Regions from separate parts of the Homo sapiens genome. Here region 1 is linked to region 2. Evidence: fine-mapped expression QTL. A gene starts in region 2. The other region holds a variant in brackets. All regions are shown on one strand. Distances are from middle to middle. Region 1 overlaps TEX22 (testis expressed 22). Region 2 holds the start of NUDT14 (nudix hydrolase 14).

Region 1 (4,383 bases), 220 kb after region 2:
GGAGATCAAGACCATCCTGGCTAACACGGTGAAACCCCGTCTCTACTAAAAAATACAAAAAAATTAGCCGGGCGTGGTGGCGGGCGCCTGTAGTCCCAGCTACTCGGGAGGCTGAGGCAGGAGAATGGCGTGAACCCGGGAGGCGGAGCTTGCAGTGAGACGAGATTGCGCTACTGCACTCCAGCCTGGGCGACAGAGCGAGACTCCGTCTCAAAAAAAAAAAAAAAAAAAGAGAAACCTGTTGTTCAATTCCTTCATGAAGAACACTTTACAATGTTACTGAATAGCATGTAGAGCTCCTGATGGAGATGGTTATCATATTGGATGGGCAGATTTCATATGTGTGTTTTTGAGACAGGGTCTTGCTCTGTCACCAGGCTGGAGTACAGTGGTATGATCACAGTGTTACTGGAAAAGGGATCTCCATCTGGACCCCAAGAGAGGGTTTTTGGATCTCATGCAGGAAGGAGTTTGAGGCGAGCTGCAGAGTGCAGTGAGAAGAGATCATTTATTGAAAGCCGCTCCACTGCAGAGCAGGGCATCCTCAACAAGCAAGCAGAGGAACAGACCTACTTTGTTTTTAGTTTTTCTTATATCGAGGTCTTATCTATGTAAAGACCAAGCTGTGCCTACGTGTGGGTGGGCTGACAGCATAACAATTTATTATTCTATTGATTAAAAGGAAACTATTTTACATTTTAGTGTGCAAGTACATTAAAGCATCACTATAATTATCTTGAAAGCATATATTATTGTGGGTGTTGGGACATCTGAACTTCCTTTTCTATGAGTTTGTCCTTGTAGGCATTACCAAGCTGCTTCCTTAGCTGTAAACATCTTAGGTCCGTGGTTGTGACCTGTAAGGAATGTGCTCTATTAGTCTCAAGGTGGAGTTGAACATAAAATGATGTTATCCTGGCTCTCCTAGACTCCTGCTTCTCTAATCACAGCTCACTACAGCCTGGACCTCCTGGACTCCAGCTATCCTCCCACCTCAGCCTCCCAAGTAGCTGGGACCACAGTGGCATGCCACCATGCCTAGCTAATTTTAAAAAAATTTTTGCAGAGATGGGGTCTTACTGTGTTGCCTGGTGTGGTCTTGAACTGGGCTCATGTGATCCTCCAGCTTTGGGGTCCCAAAGTGTTAGGATTATAGGCATGAGCCATTGCGCCCAGCCAGATTTAACGTTTTAAACATGCCAAGCTTCCCAAAAACAATTCAGTGTTTTTTAAAAAAACAGACTTCATGAATCTTGAAAATTTCATTTTAAATGTACATAGTGATTCTGGAAATGTATTACTAGTTTACTTTTTAAAAAAAATTACAGACAGGGTCTCACTATGTTACCTAGGCTGGTCTCTAACTCCTGGCCTTCCTAAGAGCTGGGATCACAGGCATGAGCCACCATACCCAGCCTTTGGCAATGTATTGGTTATCCATTGCTGCATGACAAATTTCCCCAGAGCTTAGCAACTTAAAACAGTAAGTATTTTTATCTTAGTTTCCGTAGGTCAGAAATTTGGGAGCTGCTTAGCTGGTGGCTTTGGTTTGAGATCTCTCAGGAGCTTATAGTTGAGATAGCAGTCAACACTTCAGTCATCTCAAAGCTTGAGGAAGGCTGGAGACTGCTTCCACGGCAGCTCACTCACATGACTGGCGAGTCCATGATAGGGGCTGGCAGGAGGCTCAGCTCCTTACCACGTGGATCTCCCCATAGGACAGCTTCAGTATCCTCAGTATGGGGGCTGGCTTCCCCCAGAGTGAGTGAGTGGAGAGAGTGAGCTGAAAGCTGCAATGACTTCCATGACTTAACCTTGGAAGTCACACTCCTCTCTTTCTACAGTATCCGTTTTGGATACACTGGTCATCCTATTTAGTGTGAGAGGGGACGACACAGGGGCATGGATACCAGGAGGTGAGGATCATTGGATGCCATCTTGGAGGACAGCTCTCACAGGCAGTCATTTAGTCTATACGCTTTAAGAAATTATGTACTGAGAAGCATAATAGTGAAATTGTAGAATGCCAGCGACAAAAACCTCAGAAGCAATTTGAGTGGGAAGACAGAACCTTCAAAGCAGCCACGGGAGCTCGTCACAGTAGAGCAGTAGCATGCCTGTGCTCAGGGGAAGCCATGCTCAGCCTGGAATAGCAGGCCCAGCAAAAATGGATTATACAAAGGGCTAAGTAAAGTTTTTAAATGATAAAAAAGAGAATTTGCCCCCAGCACACTCTCACCTCAGTTCTGAAGAAATGATCTCAAAGCATCATGAAAGTGATGAAAGGTCTGAAATGGATAAAGCATGAGAGGAAGTAGGAAGTGTCTGAGTAAACTGAAACTGACAGTCACTGGATGTCACTCATGCACAGAAAAGCAAGGATACAATCAATATATGTACCTGCAATGGCATAAATGTCAAGATGGTGCCTGTGAGTGGAACTAAAGTGTTCTCAGTTCCTCTGAGAAGAGGAGGGGGGTGGGCCATGGTGGCTCACACCTGTAATCCCAGCACTTTGGGAGGCCTAGGTGGGAGGATTGCTTGAGCTCAGCCTGGCAACATGGCAAAACCCCATCTCTATAAAAAAATCACAAAAAGTTAGCCAGGCATGG[T/C]GGCATGTACCTGTAGTGCCAGCTACGTGGAGGCTGAGGCAGGAGGATCACTTGTGTCTGTGAGGCGGAAACTGCAGTGAGCTGAGATTGCACCACCACACTCCAGCCTGGGCAACAGAGCCAGACCTTGACTCAAAAAAAAAAAAAGATCGAGTTGCTTGTCATCTTTGGAGTTAGATGAGTTTGCCTGCCCTCACATATTACAGCAGAAGAACAGAAGGAGATACGATGGCAGATAGAATCGCCGGTACGTCATTTAATTCAGTCAATGAAAACGGACTAAGTGTTCCAGTTAAAAGACAGACATTGTCAGAGTGGGTTGAAAACAACCAAATTCAGCGGTAGGGTTGTGAACGTGTGCAGCGGTAAGCACAGGAATATTCCAACCGCAGGGTGAAGATGGACACCAAACGGCCGTGCATCAGTTCACATTGCATTTTTCTGTCAAACAGCAAACTTACCTCGGATTTGGGAATGTGGTTGTGTGGACGCCTGTTGCGTGCAGCCGTGAGCGTGAGTCTCATAGACCTGTTCCTGAGTGAAAGAGGCAAAAAGGTGACAAAATTATTCATGCCATGTGGCTTTGTTCAGAGTTCAAAAGCATGCAGAAGTAAACAAGATATTGCCAATATTCATTAAAGTATAATTTGAAAAAATAAAGATGTTTTAAAATGTTTACTTGGAAAAGGAACCATACAACAATTTTGGAAAATAAGAGCAAGGCCTGGCTTGTCCGCACCAGCTCCAACAACTAAAACTGTGTGGCCCTGTGGCAGAAGGTGGCAAAGACACCACTGCCTGGACAAGTAACCCGGAAACCAACCTGTGCATAAATGTGGGGATTTAATTTATGTTGAGCATGGCATTTCAGAGTAGTGAGAAACAGACCTTTCAATAAGTGGTATTGGGGTGATTGGCTGTATAGTTAGAAGACGGTAGAGTGCGGGTCCGTCTCTCAAAAAAATGCACACACAAAAAACATTAAACCCAAACCATGTGAGCACTGAGAGAGTATATGAGAGAATATTTGGGATCTGGAAGTGATAAGTGCCTTTCGTAGGCCAAACACAAAATCCTTGAAGGAAAAGCCTGACAAATCTAACTACAGAGTTTTTAAACATTTCTGTGCAATCAAAGACACAAAAATGTTAAACGACAGCCTGGAAGAAAATACTTGTAATATTTATAACATTCAAATGTTTACCAACCAGAATCTATGAAGAGATGCTTGAAAGCAATGAGGAAACTATTTTTAAAACTGGATAGAAAAGTGGGCCAGGCACAGTGGTTCACTGCTGTAAATCCCAGCACTTCAGGAGGCCAAGGCAGGAGGATCACTTAAGGCCAGGAGTTCAAGACCAGTCTGGACAGCATAGTGAAACCCTATCTCTGCAAAAAATAAAAATTAGCCCGGGTGGCGTGCCACTGTAGGCTCCCAGCTGCTCGGGAGGCAGAACAAGACCCTGTATCTTTAAAAAAAAGGAGGAAAAAAATGAATTAAGTCTACGTACTTGCAGTTCCTAAAAAAAAAAAAAAGGAACTAAATGAAACAGTGAAAAAGTTGGCAAAAATTATAAAGGTGGATCTATGTGGAGTTGGTGAGGATGTAAGGAAAGAGTAAGTCTGTTTTATTGGTTTTTCAAAGAGCCCATTGTGATCATTATTCACCATTTTTAAATTTTAATTTAGTCATTAATCTTTCCTAATTTCATCTTTAAGCTTTCAGACCATTTCTTTTGCTGTTCTTTTTGTATCTTTTCAAATAATTTGC
Region 2 (4,383 bases):
GACCCCATGTCTCCACCTGCTGTACCCCGACTGATCCCAGCTGCCCCCTGCCAGCACCACCAGCTTAGCTTCGCCTTGGGGAGAGGGATCCCCTGTCCTCCAGCGCCAACAGGACTCCCGCAACAGGGAAAGTGAGGGGCACAGGGCCTCTCTCAGGCTGGGGGCCAAGAGGGCTTCTCCAGGATGGCGAGGGGCAGAGTCCTGGATGTGATGGGGGGGACAGGATGCCCCCTGAGGGAGGGAGGCAGGCAGGCAGAGAGGCACTGCGACCTGGACCACCTGACCTGATAGGCTGGGGGGCTGGACTGACTGTGACCAGGAAGGTGGTCTTTGCCTTAATGGCATGAAGGAGCTCTGGCAGAGGGGAGATCTGCTGGGGGCAGGTGGGCATGCAAGCAAAAGGTGGGGCCCTAACTGGACAGGGCTGGGCTTGGAGGAAGACGGCCCGGGACTCAGTGATCCACTGGATGTGGGAAAAGGATGGCAGCAGCTCCTTCACCCAACACATATGCCTCATGCCTGTAATCCCCATGCTTTGGGAAGCCAAGGCAGGAGGATCGGTTGAGGCCAGAAGTTCAAGACCAGCCTGGGCAACAGTGAGACGTCGTCTCTACAAAAAAATTTAAACATTAGCCAGGTGTGGTGGTGTGCACCTGTGGTCCCAGCTACTGGGGCGGGGGCTGAGGCAGGAGGATCGCTTGAGCCCAGGAGGTTGAGGCTGCAGTGAGCTGTGACCATGCCACTGCACTCCAGCCTGGGCGACAGCAAGACCCTGTCTCAAAAACAAAACAAAACAAAATATTCCTTGTGAACCTACCATGTGCCTGGTGCTAAGTGAGGCAATACAGCCTCTTGTGCCGTGGCCTGGCATGGGAGAAGGTGACACCCTAGGAGGTGGGGAAGGCTGAGCTTAGGCAGATGGAGACTCCAAGGAGGTGCCCTCCCTGGAAAAAACCCCAAGGAGGAAGCCTGCTTTGAGAGGCTCTCTCAAGTTCTCACTCAGCTCCTTCTCCTACCTCCCTGCGCCCGGCCTCTGCGCTCCTTGCTCCCTCCTCCTCGGCCCAGCTATCTCCTCCTTCAAGTGGTAGCATGAAAGCCACCACTTCCAGGAAGCCTTCCCTGATCCCCAGGGCAACCAAGGAGTTCCACTGCCAAGAGGGTCGGATTGGGCGGGCGGGAAGGATGGGGCCCAGCAATGCTTCCTTGAAAGGATGAGTGGTGCCCCCTCAGATGTCCCTCCCGCGGCCCCTCCCCGGCCTGGGGGCTCACTGGGTCTGGGAACCCGCGATCCGGCGGGCGGACAAGCGGCCGCCCGGGAGATCGGCGGGAGGCGGGGGCGGGGCTCCGGGGCGGGGCCGGCAGCGCGGAAGATGGTGGGCGGGGCGCGGGTCGTGGGCCGGGCCGCCGGCGGGGGCGCGGGGGACGCGGGGGCGCGGGCTCACCTGGCGGTAATGCAGCGTGAGCGGCCGCAGGTAGGGTGAGGCGGCGCAGCGGCCCACGGACGCCCCCTCGATGCGCTCCATGGCGGCGCCCGGACAGGCGGGGGCCGCGAGCTCTGCGGGGGCCGACACGGGGCGGCGCCCTGTCCCGACAGGAGCCTTCGGGCGGGCGCGTGACCGCGGCTCTGAGCATGCTCCGTGGGCGCGCGGGGCGGGGCGGCCGAGGTGGGCGGGGCGGCCGAGGTGGGCGGGGCTCGCAGGTGCCACCTGTCGGGTGCCGCGCGCCTCGGGGCGCTGGTCGCCGCGGTGCCAGGGAAGCCGCGCAGGCACGTGGGCGTCGCCCGGGGGAAGGACTGGCCGGGTCGACCCCGGCCGCCGGGCGGGGCCAGCCGGGCCGGGGTACAGTGCTTGGGTGGGACTCGGGACCTCTTGGCTGGGGGAGGGAGGGCCTGGCGGTGGTTGGAGCTAAGGGCCTGCAGCTTTGGGGTGCGATGGGCCGAGCGGATGCCTCCCCACTCTGGGGATGGACCACAACCCCGAGATTAAGTTACTCCAGGGGTCCGCGGGCGGGGCCGGGGGCGGGGCAGCCCCCCAGGGAGGGAGGGACTGTGGGCCCAGGAAGAAAATCACAGGAGACCAAAGAGAGAGGGCCCTGGAAGGAAGCTAGGGGAGAGGAGAGTAGGGAGCTGGAGGGGCCAGAGCTTGGGCCGAGGGGGCCTCCCCTCGAGGTTCCTGGTGGCGAGGGTGGCTGGGAGCTGCCACGCTGTCTCTGGAGCTGTCCCTCCTCCACTCAAAAGCCAGCTGCCCTTCCCTCCCCCTGCAAGTCCTACCTTGATGACGGCCCTTCCTGGGTGTGGGAGGGTCCCAGGCAGCTTCAGTGCTTCCTTGGGCATGGATTCCAAGGACCCCCTCCAAATGCCACCACGGCCTCCACGGGGGCAGGAAACAATATTGAGGCCCACACTGGCCCTGAACCCTGACCTGCACCTGCTTTCTGAACTATGGCCCAGGGGACATGCTCAGGGTGGACTGGCCATGTGAGCTTGAAATCGACTCCCAGTTCCCTGTTAACTATTGCCGTGTAACAAAACACTCCTCCAAAGCTTAGTGCCTTAAAGCACCCCGTTATCGCCTGGCCTGTGGGTTGCCCAGCTCAGCCAGGCAGCCCTGTCTTGGGGTCTCTCTGCAGTTGTAATCAGGTGGCAGCTGGGGCTGGAGTCGTCTGAAGGCCAAACGGGGTGGACCGTCCAGGATGGCCTCTTCGCCCCCGCCCTCAGTTGGGTGGCTGGAACAGCTAGGGCCGGCTGGCCTCCCATGTGGCTGGCGTGGGCTTCCCTGCAGCATGGTGGTCTCGGGGTAGTTGGATTCTCCCGTGGCAGCTGGCTCCCTCCAGAGCACGTTCACCAGGCCAGGCCAAGCTGCCAGGCTTTGTGTGACCTGGCCTCAGATGTCATATGGTGTCATTCCTGGGGCATCCTGTGGGTCAGAAAGTCCTGGGCCTCCGGCAGATTCCAGGGGAGGGACATCACCAGGTGGGAACGCTGGGGAGCACGGTCATGAAGCCAGCATCCAAGTCCAGCTGTCACCGCCCCAGTAGCTCTACAGGGGCCTGTGTCTCCCTGCTTTAGCCATTCCGCCTGGTGTCCCGGAAGCCAGAGCGCCCAGCCCAGAAGCTGGCCCCACCCTACCCCACAGCCAGGCAGGCCTCTTCCTCCGGTGCACGAGGGGCCCAGGGTAAGCGCGCACCCTGGCATGTCGCGTGCAGGCTCCTTCCTGCCCGTGGTTGCATGGAAAATGAGGATGAGTCTCAGCTTCCAGCAGCAGCAGCCCCGGGACAGGCAGAGGCAACAGGAGCCCCATCAAGGAGCCCCTGGGAGAGCCAGCAGCTCCTCAAAGCACCGTGCTCCTCAGACTCACTCGGGTCCAGGTGTCTGGCAGTGCAGACTGCAGAGCTGAGTGCCTGAAAATATCAGCAAGGAGCCCACTGTGGGACGCAGCCTGGCGGCTCCTCAAAAAGTTAAGCATAGAATTACCCTGTGGTCCAGCAACTGTCTTCCTGGGTATCCACCCAAAGGAGTTGAAAACAGACACTCAGACAGATGCTTCCTCACAGCAGCCAAAGGGAAGAACAACCCAAGCATCCGTTGCCAGGTGAATGGATCCAGAAAATGCAGTGTAGACGTGTAAGGTAGCACAACTCAGCCATGAGGAGAGAAATTCCCACACAAGCGACAGCGACACTATGCTCAGCAAAAGAAGCCAGACACAAAGGCCGTGTCCTCTGCGATTTTGTGTATATGAAATGTCCAGGCCGGGCGCGGTGGCTCATGCCTGTAATCCCAGCACTTTGGGAGGCCGAGGCAGGCAGATCACGTGATGTCAAGAGTTCGAGACCAGCCTGGACAACATGGTGAAACCCTGTCTCTACTAAAAGCCAGCCGTGGTGGTGTGTGCTTGTAATCCCAGCTTCTCGGGAGGCTGAGGCACGAGAATCGCTTGCACACGGGAGGGAGAGGTTGCGGTGAGCTGAGATCTTGACACTGCATTCCAGCCTGGGTGACAGAGTAAGACTCCATCAAGAAAGGCAAAGGCAAAGGCAAAGGCAAAGCAAGGCAAGGCAAGGCAGAGAAAGGGAGGGAGGGAGACAAAAAGCAAGAAAGAAAAAAGAAAATGTCCAGAACAGGTAAATCCATGAGACGGAAAAGCAGCTGCGGACTGGTGGGGCTGAGGGCGGGAGAATGAAGAATGCTGACTAATGGGTGCCGGCTTTCCTTTCCGTTTGGGGTGAAGAAGGCATTCTGGAAGCAGGCAGTGCTGGTGGCCGCACAGCAGTATGAATGTACTGAATGCCGCTCAGTGTGCACTGTGAAGTGTTTAATGTTCTGTGAATTTCAGTTCCATTTTAAACAAATTTTATTTAGAGATAGGGTCTCATGATGTGGCT

Evidence for each region. PIP is the estimated chance that this variant, and not a neighbour inherited with it, causes the effect. A credible set is the group of variants that fine-mapping cannot tell apart.
Region 1: its variant is the best candidate, but not a certain one, in a credible set for the expression of NUDT14 in putamen (GTEx, PIP 0.66).

The regions. Positions count from the first base shown.
Region 1 is chr14:105,402,544-105,406,926 of GRCh38, forward strand. The region is part of intron 2 of TEX22 (testis expressed 22); the gene reads left to right. Among named protein-coding and RNA genes, the nearest start is that of TEX22, 6.2 kb to the left of the region's middle. The variant T/C (reference allele first, on the strand shown) is at 2,613.
Region 2 is chr14:105,179,687-105,184,069 of GRCh38, forward strand. It overlaps NUDT14 (nudix hydrolase 14), which reads right to left and starts at 1,626. Exons shown (of 5, transcript NM_177533.5): 1 at 1,443-1,626. The coding sequence starts at 1,523. RefSeq lists a silencer at 1,326-1,795.